Regions from separate parts of the Homo sapiens genome. Here all the other regions are reported to be linked to region 1. Evidence: microRNA targets listed by miRTarBase, many of them from high-throughput screens and not tested one by one. Region 1 holds a microRNA gene; each other region holds the end of a gene's coding sequence. Distances are from middle to middle.
What was found. Region 1 holds the annotated microRNA hsa-miR-218-5p (UUGUGCUUGAUCUAACCAUGU, at 1,958-1,978, shown strand). A microRNA usually pairs through its seed, bases 2 to 8, with sites in the 3' UTR of a target mRNA and lowers its output. Matches are read on the target gene's strand: a 7mer-m8 pairs with bases 2 to 8, a 7mer-A1 pairs with bases 2 to 7 and ends in A, and an 8mer does both.

Region 2: miRTarBase lists HNRNPA3 as a target of hsa-miR-218-5p. Seed matches in the 3' UTR shown: 8mer at 1,289-1,296 and 7mer-m8 at 2,521-2,527.
Region 3: the mRNA of RCHY1 is a reported target of hsa-miR-218-5p. The part of its 3' UTR that is shown has no 7-base or 8-base seed match.

Annotation. Positions count from the first base shown.
Region 1 is chr4:20,526,342-20,529,702 of GRCh38, forward strand. It overlaps MIR218-1 (microRNA 218-1), which reads left to right and starts at 1,934; the gene lies at 1,934-2,043. It overlaps SLIT2 (slit guidance ligand 2), which reads left to right. Exons shown (of 37, transcript NM_004787.4): 16 at 2,608-2,758.
Region 2 is chr2:177,219,146-177,222,145 of GRCh38, forward strand. It overlaps HNRNPA3 (heterogeneous nuclear ribonucleoprotein A3), which reads left to right. Exons shown (of 11, transcript NM_194247.4): 9 at 1-14; 10 at 102-169; 11 at 263-3,000. The coding sequence ends at 154. Among named protein-coding and RNA genes, the nearest start is that of HNRNPA3, 7.9 kb to the left of the region's middle.
Region 3 is chr4:75,479,870-75,483,230 of GRCh38, forward strand. RCHY1 (ring finger and CHY zinc finger domain containing 1) reads right to left here. Exons shown (of 9, transcript NM_015436.4): 9 at 1-2,797. The coding sequence ends at 2,669. Among named protein-coding and RNA genes, the nearest start is that of RCHY1, 33 kb to the right of the region's middle.

The DNA of each region.
Region 1 (3,361 bases):
TGTTGAAAAGAACAGTTGATTGGCCTTCATTGACAATGTTTAATATTAATTACTTTACCCAATTAAGTGGAAAGTAATCTGATAGCTATTATTTAACCAGAAAAAGCCATATTCTAAACACCAGACTACCTATAGAATAAAACATTAATATGATTTAAATCCTAAAATTATGGCAGTAATGTAATTGGTATCAAATTATTCAAACTATTTCATTTAAATATACTTAATTAATAATTGGTAAGTTTAATATTTCCAATTCACTAAATAAAGAACAAAAGTCAGGTTGTTTTCATATATTCTGATATAGTTTTTCCCTGTTACTGACAGCAGCCAAAATAGGATTTGGAAATTATCTTTTATATCAAATATCATGTCTTAAGTTTCAATTTATGATAATTTAATTTACATTCTTTAAACATGATAATTGTAGAAGCCAGGACTCAAAAGGATCATTTGGGCTTCCTCCCCTTTTTTCCAAAAATTTTAATTAAAATTTGAGTCCACCTAACAAGCCACCATAAAATAAGCATTATTACTGTTCCGTTGAATGCAGATTATTTGAATTGCAAGATATCCAGTGTACCTGTCACTTAGACTTTGTGCACTCTTATTTCATTTTGGAGTGAAGCATAAATCATAAGACACCAGATCCTCAGTAAATATCATGGCATTAACTGCCAAATGTAATGAAACGATTATATTTACCATCGCAAACTTCTTATGAGATTCTGATTCCATTTCCACTAAGACACATTATTTATAAGTTGAAAAGTTCATTAAAAAGTGTACATCACAACATAAGGATTAATCCAAATGTTGTAATGATTGTCCTTGAGGATCTCCATGATTAGTTTTTCATTCACTTTTACGTGTGTACCTCGCTACTACCATTTTATATGGCACTCTACATATTACAGTGATAAAAGAAAATCTGTCTTGCAGAGAGTTCATCTTTTTTTTTTTGGAGATGGAGTCTCGCTGTCTCCCAGGCTGGAGTGCAGTGGCATGATCTCGGCTCACTGCAAGTTCCGCCTCCCGAGTTCATGCCATTCTCCTGCCTCAGCCTCACCGAGTAGCTGGGACTACAGGCGCCCGCAACCATGCCCAGCTAATTTTTTGTATTTTTACTGGAGATGGGTTTTCACCCGTCAGGTGAAATGGTCTTGACTTCCTGACCTTGTGATCCGCCCGCCTTGGCCTCCCGAAGTGCTAGTATTACAGGCGTGAGCCACCACACCCGGCCTTGAGAGTTCATCTTTTAAAGGAATCAAGAACTTAATTTGCACTATGCATCTTTTATTACATTGGTTTTCTTGTGAGACCACCGTGCTTCAAAATATTATTTATAAAATTTTACAAAGCATGACAATTCCCATCACATCATGCTATTTTTTCAATAATTCCCATAATAAAGAAAGAAGGAAGAGAGCTTAGTTTTATAAATATGTATATTAATCTTAATTGGGATTACTCTTTCTTTCCTTCTTGGTGATCTTTACTTTTGCAGGAATTCACCATTTTGGCTGTAAGTAAAAGTGTCTGATCTGAAACATAATACCCTCCCTTTTCAATCCTGATGTACCTTCTTCTAGTCTTGGTCTTTGGCACCTTTTTTTCAAGAAGAAACCACAGATCTTTTGAGCTTCTCTGTTGTCCTTGTAGCTCACCTTCAACTTCTTCCTGGATGTTGTTCCCGAAAGCTGTTGTTTCCATTCTGCAGTTCTGAGGAATGGTGGAGGCACCTTTTCCATATAGCCCCTTCTTTGTGTTTCCAGGAAATCATCGGTAGTAATACTCTTACTGTGGTCATAAACATTCTGCGGGAAGAATGCATGTCATGTAAACAGTATTACGTTTCCAGAACGTCTGTAGCTTTTCTCCTCCTTCCCTCCATTTTCCTCTTGGTCTTACCTTTGGCCTAGTGGTTGGTGTAGTGATAATGTAGCGAGATTTTCTGTTGTGCTTGATCTAACCATGTGGTTGCGAGGTATGAGTAAAACATGGTTCCGTCAAGCACCATGGAACGTCACGCAGCTTTCTACAGCATGACAAGCTGCTGAGGCTTAAATCAGGATTTTCCTGTCTCTTTCTACAAAATCAAAATGAAAAAAGAGGGCTTTTTAGGCATCTCCGAGATTATGTGAGAGGGAGAGAATAGTAAAAAGTCCATAGAAAATTTAAAAGCCTGAGTATATCTATTTGCCTTGAAAGCCCTAATTTACAATGAGATATAGGATCATGTTTATTACTGGATATATTTTCAATTCTTGACTCCGAGAAAAAAAATAAACTTTTTAATAATTAATATCCATTGTGTGACTAGCTGTGAAGTAGGCTAGAATGACTCAGAATTGGATCAGCAGAAAGTACAGCTGTGAAAAGCTCAACTTTATTAATGTTTTCCTGTCATGTGAATCTGGTCACTCTTTTTTCCAGAAAATTCCAAGCCTTTCTTTTAACCTTTCTCCTGACATCCATTGACCAAAATACCCCAAGTTGTCTCCCTGCTACATAATCTATAGTTATCTTACTTTTTTCTTCCTACAAACTAATAAATTTTCTAACCTTTAGACTCAGTATCTTTTTTTTGGTTTGAATTCTCAATAGGTACAGAAGATTATCGATCAAAATTAAGTGGAGACTGCTTTGCGGATCTGGCTTGCCCTGAAAAGTGTCGCTGTGAAGGAACCACAGTAGATTGCTCTAATCAAAAGCTCAACAAAATCCCGGAGCACATTCCCCAGTACACTGCAGAGTTGTAAGTTCATCCCCCAACAAAATTCTGGTTGGGATGGAGGGAATGAAAGCATTAAAGCATAAGAATGTTTGTCTTGCCATTTTTATTATTAATAATTGCATTAATTTTAATTAATATGCATTACATTGGCATAACTCTATTTTGTACAAGAATATATTAGAGGCTACCTTCATTCATCTTTCTAGCCAACCATACGATTAAGTACAGAAACTAATTTATCTCTCAAAATTCAGTAAGCACTTCATACTAATAACAATGGTATTTATTTGATGCTTATTTATTGGGTATTATTTATTCCCAATTTGTTTTCTAAGTACTTAGTTTTTAACGTATTTAATTCTTATAGCAACTAAATAAAGTAGTTTGAGAGCCTCCATTTTCAATCTCTGTAAACTATCAATAGATTCAAGGAGTCTGTCTTACCTAATTTACTACTTCATTGACTTACGGGCAGAAGGATTCAGTGGTTATCAAGTATTAAAGTAGAAAGGATAGCTTTTTCTGAACAATGCAAGAAAAGCTGAAAAGGCAGAATATGATGGTATTTACACTTAACAGCCTTAACATAGGACCTTGCACATACTAAGTGCTAAGGTGTTTGTT
Region 2 (3,000 bases), not on the chromosome of region 1:
CAGTCCCTATGGTGGTAAGTACTTTCTTAAATCAATTCTTTAGAGCCTTTTTAATTTAAAAAATGTGCATACTTCTTTTAAAATACTATGTATATTTTCAGGTGGTTATGGATCTGGTGGTGGAAGTGGTGGATATGGTAGCAGAAGGTTCTAAAAACAGCAGAAAAGGGTAGGTATCTTTAAATTTTTATTATGATGATAAAAGAATATGTGGAACTGTTCACTGAGTGTAATAATTTTTTTATCCTGTATTATTCAACAGGCTACAGTTCTTAGCAGGAGAGAGAGCGAGGAGTTGTCAGGAAAGCTGCAGGTTACTTTGAGACAGTCGTCCCAAATGCATTAGAGGAACTGTAAAAATCTGCCACAGAAGGAACGATGATCCATAGTCAGAAAAGTTACTGCAGCTTAAACAGGAAACCCTTCTTGTTCAGGACTGTCATAGCCACAGTTTGCAAAAAGTGCAGCTATTGATTAATGCAATGTAGTGTCAATTAGATGTACATTCCTGAGGTCTTTTATCTGTTGTAGCTTTGTCTTTTTCTTTTTCTTTTCATTACATCAGGTATATTGCCCTGTAAATTGTGGTAGTGGTACCAGGAATAAAAAATTAAGGAATTTTTAACTTTTCAATATTTGTGTAGTTCAGTTTTTCTACATTTTAGTACAGAAACTTTAACAAAATGCAGTTTCGAAGGTGTTTCCTTGTGAGTTAACAAGTAAAGAAGATCATTGTTAATTACTATTTTGTATGAATTTTGCTAAAGTTAACTGTAAAGAAACACCTGCTGACTTGCAGTTTAAGGGGAATCTATTCTCCCCATTTCCAAACCATGATATGAATGGGCGCTGACATGTGGAGAGAATAGATAATTTGTGTGTTTGCAATGTGTGTTTTAGATAAATAGGATTGGGTATTTAAATTAGCATTTGTGAATTTAATAGCATTAAGATTACCTTCAAATGAAAAAAAATCTCAAAATTTCTATTTGGTTTTTGTGCATTTTCTTTTAAAATGTAATCATATGATTTTAGTGTGTTAGACTTGCTGAGTCCTAGCTGTGTTTAGAACATCTCTATTCTACATTTACCTTGGTCAAATTTGAACTGCTGCCATAGGTTTTGGGTGTAAAGAATGTTTACTGCCCTCCATTTAAATTCTGAAAAGGGATGGTGGATGTTTTCCCTCTCCTACGTTAGAAACCATTCTTAAAAACTTTTGAAAATATAGAACCATTAAGCCTGCTATATCTGAGCAAATTAGTGGGTACCTTTTTTTTCTTATTTAAAGCACAAGAGGCCCATAAATCTTGAGTTACTTTAAATTCTTTTTTTTGATACAAGTTTTCAGAGCAAGAGAATAAAAATCATGTGTTATTAAACCCCTAACTGGCTGGCATGCTTTCCTGTTTGTATTCTATACATTTTGCTGGATGAAACCAAGGATAGTTCAGGTATAATTGTCCAAAATAACCTAACTGCAGCAGAAATGTAGCACAGTTGCTTAGTACAGGCTTCTCACTTCCTACAGACCTGAATTCAAATTTGGATAGTCTGAGTTCTTAAATTCCCAAAGAACACACTGTTATTTCTTGTGTATATTTCAACATAAATCATGTTGTTACCAATTTGTTTGGAAGGCCCTGGTTGAGAAGAGTTTTAGTTAATAAGGTCATATATACATATATTAATATAAACCAATGTCTACTGTTTTGCTCCAGCTAGTGCTTACAGTTTCATTCGAGCCCTGAGTATGTGCCCTGCTGTTACTCTCTTTGGTAGTTGAACGTTGAATTCAAGTCTTTTGTTTTAAGAAGTACTAAGCAAACAAGCAATAAAAAGGGGAATGGGGTGTGCTAGTGTTTGAATATGCTCTCTTGTTGCTCTAATTCTGTGCCTCTGTGCATTAATATTTGGATGCATGCAATGCCAGCATGGAAATTGGTCTTCACACATACTGCAGTTTTCCAGAAACATTCACAAACCAATAAATGTAACAGACATTCCATTTGTTAATGGGCATATATGTGAAAAGCAGTGTAGAAAATAGGCTAATATTAGAAAATGGTTAAGTCCTAAATAACTTCAAGTGTGGTTATATAATGGACACTGTCAATGTTCATAACTTAAACCTGGGTACCTGGTCAAAATAATGCTTGGGAAACATTAAAATTGAGCTAAATTGTCTCAAGTTCTTTTATTCATATAAATAAAGTTTAAAGGAATGGGGGAGATTAACATTTCCTGTTTTATGTTTGTGAAATTGTTTGACACAACCTTGACAGTATCCTTTAATGGCATGAGGTTAATTGTACTGTTAACCAACTTTCTATGTTCTGGAACTAGTATTATAGTGAAAACATTTACAGTAAGTTGATGTTTACAACCTATAAGCAGGTGAAATCTGTGTATGTGACCTGTTTATAAGTTGTATTAGCTTAGCTCTTGTGAACAGTGTGGAAAAGTAAGCCATGAGGAGAGCGATTTAACCACCTTTAAAGGACCTAAGATGTGCTTTTTAAGCACAGTGTGGATCACAGAAACTCACTAAGACAGGACTTCAGCAGCCTTTTGTGTTTGGACAAGTCAGCATAAATAAAGAATGACAAGGCAGCAGCAAGAGCTTCAACTACAGAGAAGTGAAGGCATAAGATACTATGATGATAGTGAGCAACTTTCCAAAAGCTAGTTAAATCTGCTTATTACAACTGAAATATCGAAGAAAGTCTAGCAGGAAGGAGCTCTTCGCCTTTTGGAACATCAATGAGAGATAGTTGCCACAGTCACTAGGTCTAGCATTTAGACCTGCAAGGAAGGGCAATAAGCATTAGGTAAGGCTTGAATTTGAATTTTTTCACTAATTAAAGAGTAATTTTTTGTAAAGCAAGGTAAGAGTAATCTTTTTGATTTGCAGGTTGAATGAGAACCCTACTTGCCTAAATGAGGAATGTCTTTCCTACCATCTAAAATACGAAGGTTTCTGGCTGGGTAAGGTTTGTA
Region 3 (3,361 bases), 55 Mb from region 1:
AAAGAATGAAGTTGTCTGTTAAAATGTTAACAGTAGTTCTCTCTGAAAGAAGGGATTGTTGAGAGTTTTTTACCTTCTTTCTTATAGAGGTATAACCTATACTTATGAAGTCAGAGAAAGAAAAAATATTTAAGGGTAAAGTTATGTATTTTAAGTTTTGCATACTGAATGGTAAGGGATGTAGATTTTATTCTTATTGTGAATGAGAAGTGTTGAAGGATTTTAATCATCGAGTTGACGTGTCATGAACAAATACTTGAAGCAACCCTGGGTACCGAAGCCTAGAGACTTTGAGTACATTTGAAAATTGCTTTAAGTGCATGACTAGACAGCATAAACGAGTGATTGCATATGTACTCTGCATTATTTTGGACATGTTTGGATCCTAAGTTAAAGAAACAATCAGATTGTGAAATAAGACTTTCTAACTAGAGTCACCTAAAAAAATGAAAGGTTAATCTATCAAATCATGAGCGCTTCAATGATATGGATGACTAGCTGTGAGGGGTATTTTAGCAAAATAGAAGTTTAGATCAAAAGCAATGTGGTAAAAGTGGGTTTGGAGTCAAACTTGGATCTGATTCCCAACTCCAACATATAGTGTCTGTTATTTACCCCCAATGTGTCATTTTAACCTCTAAACCTCAGCTTTCTTGTCTATGAGGACAACACTTACCCCACAGAATCATTGTAGTAATTAATGCTAATGCATGACCCAGCACAGATGTTGAAAACAGAAGAGCCTTATTATTATATACTCACTCCTATTTAAAGATCCAATGATTCAATGATTAAAAACAATAACATGATTGGTTTGGCAGAATAATACCAAACATAAAAAGTAATACATCTGGACCAAGCACAGTGGCTCATGCCTGTAATCCTAGCCCTTGGAAGGCCGAGGTAGGAGAAATGCTTGAGCCCAGGAGTTCAAGACCAGCCTGGACTTTGTTTCTACAAAACAATTAAAAATTAGCTGGGCATGGTGGCACACACCTGTAGTCCCAGCTACTCAGGAGGCTGAGGTGGAAGGATCAGTTCAGCCCAGGAAGTCAAGGCTGCAGTGAGCTACGATCACTTCACTACACTCTAGCCTAAATGACAGAGCAAAACCACTTCAAAAAAAAGTATTAGATCTGGAAAACTAGTCTTTACTTATCTGTATACTAATTGGTAATACCCAGGAACATCCTTTCCCAAATGAAGATCAGCACTGCTGCTCTGGCCAGGCCAAGGAAACAGATGAAGGGAAAGAACATAAGAAGAGTGGAATACAGAAGACAAGAAGGTGGGATAAAATAAAGATCTGAGTCCCAAACTGCTGCCTTTATCTAGGTGAATAAATTTCAACAAAAGAAGAAATAAATGTGCCAGAACTCTTAGGCTTTCTAGTTAAAAGGCTAACTTCCTTATTCAAAGAAGATTCAAATAGCTCAAAGTTGGAAATACAACTGGTGCTCAATAGGTACTTATCAACTGATAAATGTACATTTTACATCCTAGCCTAATGGTAAAGCTATTACGGAGATAACAGTGTCAAAGTCGGCTGGATCATCAAACATATTTGTTAACTTTGTTCCTGAAGTAAGAGGTATATTTAATTCCACTACATGAGCCCAAAAAAGTATTATGAAATCAGAGATCTTGCCAGGAATATCCCATGCCCTTCCCACTCATCCATCCCCTATTTTCACACGCTTAGGGAAGAAATATTCTATTCATTTACAATAAGACATCCACTCCTTGCATAAAGAAAAATGAGTACATTGATCAAATATGATGAACAATAGAATGTACTGCTGTGAGGACAAGGACTTTTATCTTTATTGTTCACTGTTGTCTCTACAGCATCTAGAAACATATCTGCCACATAGCAGTTGCTCAATAAATACTTGCTAAATGAAGGAATGAATGACTCTTTGAAGAAATAATTTTGGGCAACCTAAAAAAAACTGTTTTCAATGTTGATGTTTTTATTAAGGCTTTGGAAGAGTCTTATTATTTTACATAATAATTTTCCCAACTACTTTTATGGAATACCTCAAAAGAAAGAAAATTTCTTTTACATTATAGAACTGATGATACTGCCCTAATTGAGCCAAACATAGAAAACTTTGGAAAAAACTTTCTATAAAACAGTTTCAATATAATTTTATTAGCAGTTATTACATCAAAATTCACATTTAGAGGATCCAGAGGACTGTCTTAGAAAATTCTAAAGCATATTTAATTAGGTTTTAACAGTAAGGGAGAACTTAATATAACACAGCCCTTAAAAAGTCAAGACTACTACTGAAAATTAAGTGCAGTTCTATCAAGAACTAGAAATGAACTGCACGCGTAGTGTCACTTAAAGCAAAGCTTCATGAAAATATAATACACTTCTATGAATGTATCAGTGGCAAACATCATTGGCTTCCAAAAAACTGACACTAAAGGAATTTCCAATCAAAACACAAGCACAGTGGCTTTCATTCAATATAGAGCTATGATAAGTCTATCAAGAGACCCTGAATCCTTACGTACTTGTAATATGATTTTATGCTGTGACACTAGTACAAAACACATCAACTCTAATGCATAGATGACGACACATGATAACACGATACCAAGGAAAGCCTTTTTCTATATCAGAAAATGCCAAGTTCTCCAGTACTGTGTAGGCTCGTCATTGCTGATCCAGTGAAATTCTACGTCCTCCAGCTTGAGCAGTATTATAGGATTCACAAATCTTACATTTCATGCCTAATATATGAAACTGAACAGTGGATCGTCCATTACAGTCATTGCAGAGAATCTGAAAAGAGATTAATTCAAATTAAGTATTTTAAACCTTATAAATACAAGTAGCATTGTCTACTCATAATCCCTTGAAAATCATATTAAAGATGTGAAAATACATACATAAGTCTAAAAATTTCCAAAAGTAGAAATTTCTTCTTATTTTTTCACTGAAAACTCTAAAAAGCTATTAAGGTGGCTCTGAATTCAGAAAATGAAAAGGCAGATTTGAGCAAAAAAAAAGCTTATTTTAAAATAGTTTCCAAATATTAAATAGTATAAATAGTACAAGCAAGAAAATTAACCTAGGCATAATCAGATGAATACCTGATACTTATAATTCAAAATAACAACATGATTTCATTATTTTTCAGTCAGAAATGTATCTCAATTAATAAAACCAAAATTTTTACACAAATAATATTTTTGCTTATTTTTTAGGTTTAGTATACTGTTCCCTGTCTTCTCTGCCTTAGGAATGAATTAAATTCCAAAAAGAGTGTTCCTAAAATTGAGTAAACAGAGAGGCTCTTCGCTCATCCCTACAATAACAATAAGATGCCGTTTAAGAATTAATTTC